Homo sapiens: one gene and its partners. The protein of the gene in region 2 interacts with the protein of the main gene of each other region in a pairwise test. Each region holds a gene or a part of one and is shown on either strand. Other genes may lie near its edges. The genes, in order: APOD, ERGIC3 and GPM6B.

The links.
Region 1: the proteins of ERGIC3 (region 2) and APOD interact in binary tests that used the Homo sapiens proteins (3 or more experiments, as listed by UniProt).
Region 3: the proteins of ERGIC3 (region 2) and GPM6B interact in binary tests that used the Homo sapiens proteins (3 or more experiments, as listed by UniProt).

The regions. Positions count from the first base shown.
Region 1 is NC_000003.12:195,570,918-195,573,940, forward strand, and holds part of APOD (apolipoprotein D precursor), read right to left. Parts: coding exon 2,933-3,023; intron 449-2,932; coding exon 360-448; intron 1-359. UniProt on the Homo sapiens protein: APOD occurs in the macromolecular complex with lecithin-cholesterol acyltransferase. It is probably involved in the transport and binding of bilin. Appears to be able to transport a variety of ligands in a number of different contexts.
Region 2 is NC_000020.11:35,554,954-35,558,137, reverse strand, and holds the end of ERGIC3 (endoplasmic reticulum-Golgi intermediate compartment protein 3), read right to left. Parts: intron 3,095-3,184; coding exon 3,063-3,094; intron 2,106-3,062; coding exon 2,009-2,105; intron 1,932-2,008; coding exon 1,867-1,931; intron 1,166-1,866; coding exon 1,029-1,165; intron 945-1,028; coding exon 889-944; intron 714-888; coding exon 634-713; 3' UTR 504-633; downstream 1-503. UniProt on the Homo sapiens protein: Possible role in transport between endoplasmic reticulum and Golgi. Positively regulates trafficking of the secretory proteins SERPINA1/alpha1-antitrypsin and HP/haptoglobin.
Region 3 is NC_000023.11:13,772,036-13,775,690, forward strand, and holds part of GPM6B (neuronal membrane glycoprotein M6-b), read right to left. Parts: intron 2,590-3,655; coding exon of another isoform or gene 2,509-2,589; exon of another isoform or gene 996-2,508; coding exon 846-995; 3' UTR 1-845. UniProt on the Homo sapiens protein: May be involved in neural development. Involved in regulation of osteoblast function and bone formation. Involved in matrix vesicle release by osteoblasts; this function seems to involve maintenance of the actin cytoskeleton.

The DNA of each region.
Region 1 (3,023 bases), on a different chromosome or scaffold from region 2:
ATGTTTCGGGCCCCAGTTTCCTTTGGGAAACAAGACTGGGTTGTGTCTTCTGCAGCCCACACCCGGTGTGCACCTACTTGTGTTTCACCTGTTGAAACGCTAGCTAGTTATAGTAAATTGCGGGGTCACGTGTCAGTATCCACACTGGGATGTGAGCTCCATAAGTACCAAGGCCAGCTCTGTCCGGCTCATCATGGCAACCCTAGTGCGTGACATGTAGTAAGTGTTTGACAGATAATTATGTGCTGAGTGATTATAGATGACACTCAGGTGTCTCAGGAATTCTCCAAGCCGGGGCGCTAGCCTTCAGTTTGCATATTTCCTGTCCCTGAATCCTCCTGGGAAAAGTGGATACTTACACCAGGAAAACTTAACTTCCAGCTTGGCAGGCTCTGTGAGGTTAACTGGGGTGGCTTCACCTTCGATTTGATTCACAGTTCCATCAGCTCTGCAGTGAGTTAAAAAAAGAAAAAATACAAAAAACGAAAAGAGAAAAGAAAAACAACTCATTGAAAGCCAATAAGCAACGAAAGGCAAGATTTGTGCCACTAAGGACCGTGGCAGCCAACACCGTGATTTCTGGTAAGAGAGGCTCTCAAAGGCAGGCTAGACCCTAGCTCCATGGCCTGGCCTTTCCCTTGTGACTGTCTCTGAGGCCAAGCAGGGGAAGAGAGCAGCGGGGTGATAAGAAGCCGCAATTGACAAGCTCCAGGATGGGACAGTATGTTAGGCCCTTGCACTTCAACACTATCTCTGACTATCTTCTATGGCCTGAAAGACCAATTCCTGCTCCCAGTCTCCAAAGAAAGGGAGAAAAGAGAATGGAAAAACAAACAAAACAACCCAACACACAAAGAAGATTCACTTTTTTTTTTTTTTGGAGATGGAGTCTTGCTCTGTCCCCCAGGCTGGAGTGCAGTGGTGCGATCTCGGCTTACTGCAACCTCTGCCTCCCCGGTTCAAGCAATTCTCCTCCCTCAGCCTCCCCAGGAGCTGAGATTACAGGCATGCACCACCACGCCTGGCTAATTTTTTGTATCTTTAGTAGAGACGGGGTTTCACCATGTTAGCCAGGCTGGTCTCAAACTCCTGACCTCAGGCAATCTACCTGCCTCAGCCTCCCAAAGTGCTGGGATTACAGGCGTGAGCCGCCGTGCCTGGCAGATTCACTTCTTTTTAAAACGAGAAGGGCCAAAGGTACAGATGAGGATGGACTTGATCACTGAAAATAATTCAAAACAAGGAGACATAAAAGCGTTCCCCTTCTTTGGGCCTCAGTGATATCATGTGACATCGCCTGTCCCATCAAGGGGCCTGAGTCCAGAGACTCCCTCTAGTTCAGCAAGCCTCTGAGTGAGTGTGGGGGATTTCAATGTAGGCCAAGTAAAAGGAGGCAGTGAAGAAACATTTACTTTATCTCAGTGATTCTCAGGTATGCCCAGATTTCAGAGACATTAAATGTGAAGAAATGCATATCTCACAATTGATGTCACCTGACAATTAGCAGTGTCATTCCTTTCTTAGTGGCATATAACGCAGTGGTGTGTCTTAAAAGCTGGGGGCTTAGATTGGATGCAATACTTTCACCTCTTTGAATGAGCCTGCTTTCTAGATGACTCCCAATGGCCCCATGAACTTGGGAGAAGGGGAAAGGTGTGGAGATGGAGGCACCAAAGGGAGGGTGCTAAGGCATCAGGGTGCTCTTCCTAGGAAGCCAACAGAGGAGAGGATGTCTGTTTATCAATCCTCAAGGCAGAGCAGGGAGGCCAACTGAAATTAGAGCAGTCGTATGTGTTAGAAAGTCAGTAGGTTGGCCGGGCGTGGTGGCTCACGCCTGTAATCCCAGCACTTTGGGAGGCCAAGGGGGGGCGGATCACAAGGTCAGGAGATCAAGACCAGCCTGGCCAACACAGTGAAACCCCGTCTCTACTAAAATACAATTAAAAAAAAAAAAGAAAGTCAGTAGGTTAATGCTATGGTTAGTGGTGACGGATGTCCTAGAAACAGGACAATGAGCAACAGGCCAGGGATTCTGGGAACTGTGCTCTGATGTTCCCAAGTACTTTCTCTGTTTATCACCATGTAAAGCTGGAGACCGTGCCCTCCTCTCTCATCTGGATCTCAGACAGCTGGGGAAGATGGTCTGTTTCTATCTGCATACGTTAACTTAGCAACAAACCAGTCTCCTCCCAGCAGATTCTGCCCTTTTCACCGTCAATTGCATTTTGCTCTAGAACGGTTTTCAGGACACCAGTCTCTGACCATGAAGTCACAACATGTTCATGGAAAAACTGCATTTGTATTTTCAAGAGTGGAAGGTGGGTAGGAAGGAGCTCTTCCTGGGGCTCTTTTTAAGTTTATAGTTGCTTTCCAAAGCGTAGCTTTTTGGATTAATTATTGTGTTAGAAGCCCTCAGTAATAGAAATGTACACTTCTAAAGGATATCCTGTTTACATAACCTAGAGTGTGAATGTTGTGTATGTGATTCTTGCTTAATAAGAAAAGGAGCTTTCTGATAGATTAAGCTGCCCAGAGATGGGATGAACTGTCCTGGAAGGCGATGAGCTCCCAGTTCCTGGAAGTGTTTGAACAAAGCTGGATGCTTCTGTCAGCAGATGGTGTCGAAGCGGCTTCTCTCCCAGACTGGAGGTCAGAAGAGATGGTCTTGATGTTCTTTGCTACCAGAGTATCTATTTTGCAGTGAGTGCAGGAACCCTGTCAGTTTGTGCCCCGCAGGTGGTCATGGAAATGCATAAGTGGATCCTAGTCCTTGCCATCCTTGCCTGCCAAACGCTTTCCTCTCAATTCCTGCTAGGAGCAGGCAGTCCCGATCCAGCAAGGTTCCCATCCTCCCTGACCCAGGCTGCCGGACACCCAGTCACTCTGCATCAGCACTCCGCAGGCCTGGCCCCGGACGCCCACAGCCACTCACCTCAACTCCTGGTTTAACACTTTGATCTTTCCGTTTTCCATTAGTGAGTAGTTGGCCTGGATGCAGCGTCCATTCTCAAAGGTTGTTGGGA
Region 2 (3,184 bases):
GTTTTGCTTCCATCTAGACTGCAGAGGACCTGGAGGGATTCCTCTCTGCAGTGAGAGCCAGCGTGGGGTTTGGCACAGAGTGGGATCAGTGAGTGTGACAGGATCAGGTGTATTGAGCCCAGGGTGGCGGAGAGCGGCCCCAGCTTTACCCATCAATGAAGAAGTGGCAAGCCCCAATATGCACTCAGGGCCCTGAATTAGTGGCCTGGGGTTGATCACTCATGAGCCTGGGGGCCATGGTGGCTCCAGGAAGCTCACGCTGAAAAGGTCCATCTGAGCCCTGGGGCTGAACCCGAGAGGCCTGAGGACCACAGTGGAGGAGGGACCCAGGACAGGGCTGTGGGCTGGACATGAACCTGGTTTGAATAAACCCCGGTTAACTAGGGGATGCCCATGTGGGGCTCCCGAGGGCTCTGGGCCCCGATCTGTCAGTCACAATTGCCTTCAATGAGTGGCCAGGATGAGGCTCTGGCCATGGCAAGGATCACACGGAGACCAGTGAGTACTATCACAATCAATCAATAGATTTATCAACCTGGGGCTGGGGCTGACCGAGGAGGTGGAGGGTGGCAGAGGCTGGGGGACAACCACAGGCCAGGGAGAAAGAGGAGACAGAGGAAGCACCGAGGGTGACTACGTTGTCTTCCCTAGATCAATTTTCTTCTGGATGGCTCGTGCTGAGTGGTAGATGAGCGAATCGATGAGTCCAGCCACTGGGAGAGAGACAAGGGCTGGCACTGGCCCAGTGGGGGCCTTGGCTTTTGACGCTGAGAGCCTTGTCACTTAACTGGCCAGGCCAGCATCTGCCCCTTCACCCCCAACCAAACCTGGGGCACCCAGGCTTTACCCTCCCCACCCCACAGCTCACAGACGCCCTGGGCCTCTTACCTGTGAACATGCCCCCAATGATGGCGCACACACCTGTCAGGAAGTGGGTGAAGGACCTGGTAGAAGGAGAGGGTGGGCTCAGCAGGCATCCTCCTCCCTCAGGCCCAGGCCCCCAGAGGCCGCTTTGCCCCCATCCTCACCTGTGCTTCTCCGTCAGCTTCACCATCATGGGCGAGAGCTCATAGAGGACGAAGACTCCGGGAAGGCCTTGGTCGCCCAACAGCCCATTGGCAACCTTCTCATGTCTGGTCACAGAGAACTGATTTGTCCTCAGTACCTGGGGTGGGAGGGGAGCCTGGGCCAGGGCTAGGGCTAGGACCTGGCTCCAGCCACCATCAGCCCCACCCCTGCTCCTTCCCCTTTCCTGTTGAGCCTTGGCCGTGTAAGGAGAGAACACAGCACCGTGCTAGTGGCCTGCACTGCAAGGCCTGGCCCGCCAGACCCCCTCTCCTAGTCTTGGCCTCAGCCTTCCCCTCCAGGTGCCAAGTCTTTACAGTTTACCTATCCTGGCAGCATTTGGTGGGTGTTCTCACGGGGGTCCAGGCTGAGAAGCAGCTCTCCAAAGACGCACCAAGGCTGACCTGACTTCCTCTGCCCTCAGCCCCTCGCATCCTGCCACTCTGCTGAGATGCTGCTCCACAGGCCAGGGCAGCCTTGGGAGCGGGTACACAGAGACTTGCCTTGCCTAACCCCCAGCCCAGGCAGACCACAGAGAACAGTGAGGCAGGCAGACGGTGGGCACCGGAGGAACGGATAGAAGCGGTGAGGGCAGCAGAAAGAGCAGGCGCTTTAAATCTAACAGCCCCAGGCCTGCACTCTGCCTGGGAGGGCAAATCCCCCACCCTCTCTGTGCCTCAGTCTTTTATTCGCCATGTGAGGACGAGGCAGCTTTCACTCCCCAGGCTGACGGAACGAAATGCAGGAACTCCAGTGCTTGGCACCGCGCAGGAGACTCTGGTAGGGAGCTCCCTGACTCACCTCTCCGTCCACCTTCATGTACACAGTGGGCACCACCTTCACAAAGTACTGGAACATCATGGAGGCTGAGGGGAAAACAAAGCACTGGGTATGGGTGCCCGGCCGGCCTTCTGCGGCTGGGGGCTGCCTCCCGGGCTGGTACCTTGGGGCGCAGTGACATTGGTGTGGTCCAGGGGGTTCACAATGCCTGGATAGTCCTCCCCAAATGACAGGTGCTGGATGTAGTGGGTCATGTTGATCTGTAAACAACACCATCCAGAGCTCATCCAAAGCTCTGATGACAGTAGCAGACAGGGACACCTGGGTCCGTCTGCGGAGATGTGGGAGGAAGGGGAGGCTATGGTCCTAAGGGGACAACCTCCCCGAGATAAGAATCCCCCATTCCCTGCCTAGAAACTCCTCCTTCCACAGCCTGCAAACTCCTGGGGTTCCAGATTTTTCTTTTTTTTTTTTTTTTTTGAGACAAGGTCTCACTCTGTTGCCCAGGCTGGAGAGCAGTGGCATGATCTTGGCTCACTGCAGCCTCGCCTTATTCAAGCGATTCTCTTGCCTCAGCCTCCTGAGTAGCTGGGATTACAAGCATGAGCCACCATGCCTGGCCAGGTTCCAGATTTCTTAAAATACCAGCTTCACTTGTACGTTAGGCACACAGAGTAGCAGGTGCTGGCTTTGCCTGGAGGCCTAGGCTGGAGGCTGTGAACCCCCAGATACACTCCCTTCCTGCTCCCTTGTGTATCAGCCTCAGACACTAGAAGGATCTTTCCTAAAATGCAAATCTGATTATGTCGTGATCCTGCTTAAAGAAGGCCAACAGCTTTCCACTGTTCTCATGAGAAAGATGTGATTCCTCAGCGTGGCCTCTGAGTCCGGTGTGGTCTGGTCCCTGCCGACTTCTCCAGCCTCACCCATCCACACCTGCCCCGCAGTTCCTTAGAAGGGCCATGCTCCCGCCTGACCTTGCGCTGAGGCTCTGTCTGTCTAGGATGCTCTTATCCAACCCCAATCTTGCCCCTAGCCTGCTCAGAGTTCAGTTCAAAAGTCACTCTCGCTTAACCCTCAGGCTGGATCCCCATTCAGAACGTGGTGTATTTTTCCATATGCACTACCCCATCCCAGGATGTTCCTACAAGGAAATGAAGGCAGCAACCAAGCCTCCCACCCCCACCTGCCCTCCATGGTTTCCATCTGGTACGTACGTTGTCAAGGCCAAAGCTCTGCAAGTCATGGACTAGGAGAGAAGGGAGAAGGCAAGGGAGAAGGCGTCATTAGTAGGAGCAGCACTGGCCTCCTCCTTCCTCCCCCTGGACTGCAAACCACC
Region 3 (3,655 bases), on a different chromosome or scaffold from region 2:
ATTTATGGAACAAAATTCTGTGAAAGATATTTGGGTCTCTAGTTATGATATAAATTCTTAGAAATTTAAAGCAAATACTCATTAAGGCAAAGCTGACATTTCTCAAGAATAATGAAAATTGGATCAGTATTTTGTTAAAATGAAATCTGTTATAAAATTGCTTCTGGAAAGCTTGTCAGTGAGTCCAGCATCCAGATTCTTTAATAGTAGGGTCAGCAGAATTGTAGCTAATTTTAGCATTATTGAAAAATATATTTCTGATTGGCTCAGGAAATTAATGGGTCCTGGACTTGGGAGGGAAAAGCTAGTTTGAGAAATCAATCATAAGAATCACATTATCTTTGATCCAAAGTTTAATAAATGTCAGCTGTCAGAAATGGAACTTTACATCAATTCCATTTTATTTCCTATGTAGATAACACTTGAGGACAGATGGCATATATGTGAATTTACGGTCTTATCCCTTGATGCTGGGCATGTCACAGGTCCTTATTAAGGAGTCACAGGTCCCTATTAAGGAGTGTGACATATTCCATTGAGTGTCTTGGTAGAATTGCCCTAGCAATAAATGTGAACATGCCACAAATTCCCAAAGTATGAACGATCATTTTGTCAAAGTGTTGCCTTTTAAAATGGCTAACATGAAACCTCCAATATTTGTTCTAAAGAAAAAGATTTACCCACTGGAAGGTTTTCCTAGAGATACATCCCAGCAGCTTGAGACAGACAGTGAAGTGTTTGTACATCTACATTAGTTTGGTGGGATACACATCTGTACTGCAGAGCAGCTGTCTGATGATTTGTCAGAGCTGTAAATACGTCGGCCGAAACACTCTGGCAAACATTTATGTGTAAGAATTGAGTTGTTCTTTTGACCGAGACTGGATATCTTGCAGTTCCTGTTCTTCCTTTGCTTTGATATCCTGGTAAGCCTGCATTTTGCTCGCATCCTTTAAGTAAGCCCAGTTAGAAGACAGTATCATGAGGAAGTGGATCTGGAAGAGAAGGGTGAGCATGATGGCTAGTGAGCATTGTGAGAAGGCAAAGCGAGGCGCTAGTTAGATTAGACAGACTTGACTTTAAAGGGGCGAAGGTTAATTCTGTATTAATAAATACTCGCTCTACTAGCAGAGCTGTCAGATCCTGAAAGCATGCTCTACTAGTTGGCTTCGCATTAAAAGGCTGAAGAAAAGTTAGTATACAAACATAGTGAACTGGAAAAAAATGGCCAAAGGTATTGTTAAGAAAAAGCAAAAATGAAATACGAGAGGGTGCTTTTTTTTTTTTTTTTAATACCATTTTGAGAGTAATTTTAAAGACTAATGCGAAAGTTCGGGAGCACATTGTATATTTGAAATAAGTGTAGTGTGTGCAAAGACCATTTTCTACCTGTGGATAAAAATCAATTCCCCCAAAGGCCTAAAAGCATGAACAATGTTTATTTTGAGTAAATAATTAAACTACATATTTAACATGGAAAAAATTAAATGAATGTCAAAACCAAAATTAAGAACTATAAGCAAAGCATGCAGTCTCTGTTAACAAAACTTAGTTGTGAAACTACATTTTTCATTTTGTAAATGCCATTATTTCATTTCATAAAATGTAAAAATCCTCAGTATCATTCTTTACACTTGATGCGGCAAACACTTCTTTCCTATTTTCCTCGTATTTCCTGCAAAATAAATCTACATCTCAAGTTCCTTATAGTTCATACTTTCTTCTCAACATATTTGAGACCTTCAGGTCCAGGCCTATTTTCTCTTCCCGTTAAAATCTTACATGCAGCTTGAGAACTAGCTATGAGGAAACAGTTAGTTATTACTTACCAAAACACACAATTTAAGGTTACCAATTTTGTGGGCTCTAACAGAATGATTGTGTTGTACCAAAAAAAAAACTACCCACATATAAATCCTTTTTTTTTTTTTTTTTTTTTTTTTTCCAGAGAACTGGGTGACCTTTTTCTTCAAATTTTCATCTGGCTTATTTGAGGGTCATTTGGTAGTGAACCATGTGATCATAAAAAAATTGTTTTCAATTTAGAACATATTTGCAAAGTATTTTCCAGGTGTGACAAAACAAAATCCAGATTAAAACGGTTCTCTTCCATTTCATCTTCAGCACTTGTTTTCATTTTCATCATTGAAACTGGTTATCAGGCAATCAAAAATAACAGAAAATGTAAGTATTCCAAAGTGTTAATAATTCATTTAAAGATACTGCTCTCTAATGTTTAAGTATGAGAACATTATTTTAAAAAGGATGCTCACCACTGTCAGTAAATAACTGAATCCTTTTCAAAATGTGGAAATAGCCACCAGATCTCATTATTGTGTAATTCATGTACAGTAAGTCATCTTATTAATCTACCATGCAAGGTGAGTTTACTAAAGCTATTTACAAATTACTGTAACAAAATTGCAGAAACCTAGACTCTGCTTTAGTCTGGAGTGTCAGTGATATTTCATGCTACAGAGCATAGCTCTCTAAAACTCCTTATGCAATTTAGAATTTAGTGCAGCAATCTTCCCGACTCTTAAACTTCAAAACCGCATAGTTATATGTAGTAGCCATCATGTAGATCAGCTGGTGGAAGAGAACAAAACAGGACAGTAAGATACAGGCAGTGAGGGCCGATGCCATGACACTTCTAAACTTGGGTGGGGACGGGTGCCTGCTCATAGTCTAAGGTGTTTTTTTCCCACTTAAAATCACAACAGACAATTTTCCTATCTAGCACACACAAACTTTTTCTCATCACACATGTACAATGTAAGTCATTGGTTCTGCCCTCAGTGAGTTTACTAAAAGGACTTGGATGCGTTTCAAGAATAACAAGACAGAGAGCTGGGTCAACAGCATGAGAAGGATGAAGCTAAATGCCTTAATCCTCTCATCTTTCCAAAACCACCTGCTCAGCAGCAGGCAGTTATCTTTCCTCCCTGTTGCTCAACCAAAAGAACAGGTCACCCCATGATTTTAAAGGTGGTTTTTTTCATAGATTCTAAGGGGATTTAATGGTCAGAAAAACTGGGAATGAATAATTTACAAGCAGCTGAGATTTTTCCCTTGCTCTACCAATCTTAGTTGGTTTTCCTGAAATCACAAACCAAGCCCTCCAAAATTACATGTATACAAACATACATACATAAGAGCGTGTATTTATACAGTTGATTTTCATTACTTGTAGATTCCACATTTGTGACTGCCTACTTGCTAAGATTCATTTGTAATCCTTAATACTTGAGGCACTTCTTTCGCAGTTATTAGCAGACATGTGCAGAGCGGTGAAAGTTGAGTTGCCCGGTATGCACATTCCCAGCTGAGGCTGAACAAGGCAATACTCTGCCTTCTTGTTTCAGCTCTCAGACTGTAAATAAGTATACTCGAAGTATATTTAGTGCCACGTTTTTCACATTTTTGTGCATTTTGTGGGTGATTTTGCTGCTTAAAATGGCTCCCAAGCATAGTGCTGCAGTGCTGTCTAGAGTCCCTAAGTGCAAGAAGGTTGCAAACTGCCTGACCAGAGAAAATGTTCATTAGAGAAGCTTCATTCAGGCATAGGGATAGAGCTATTGGCCATGAATTCAATATTAAGGAATCAACAATATATATTAAATACGGTGTATTTACACAGAAACACACGAAACAA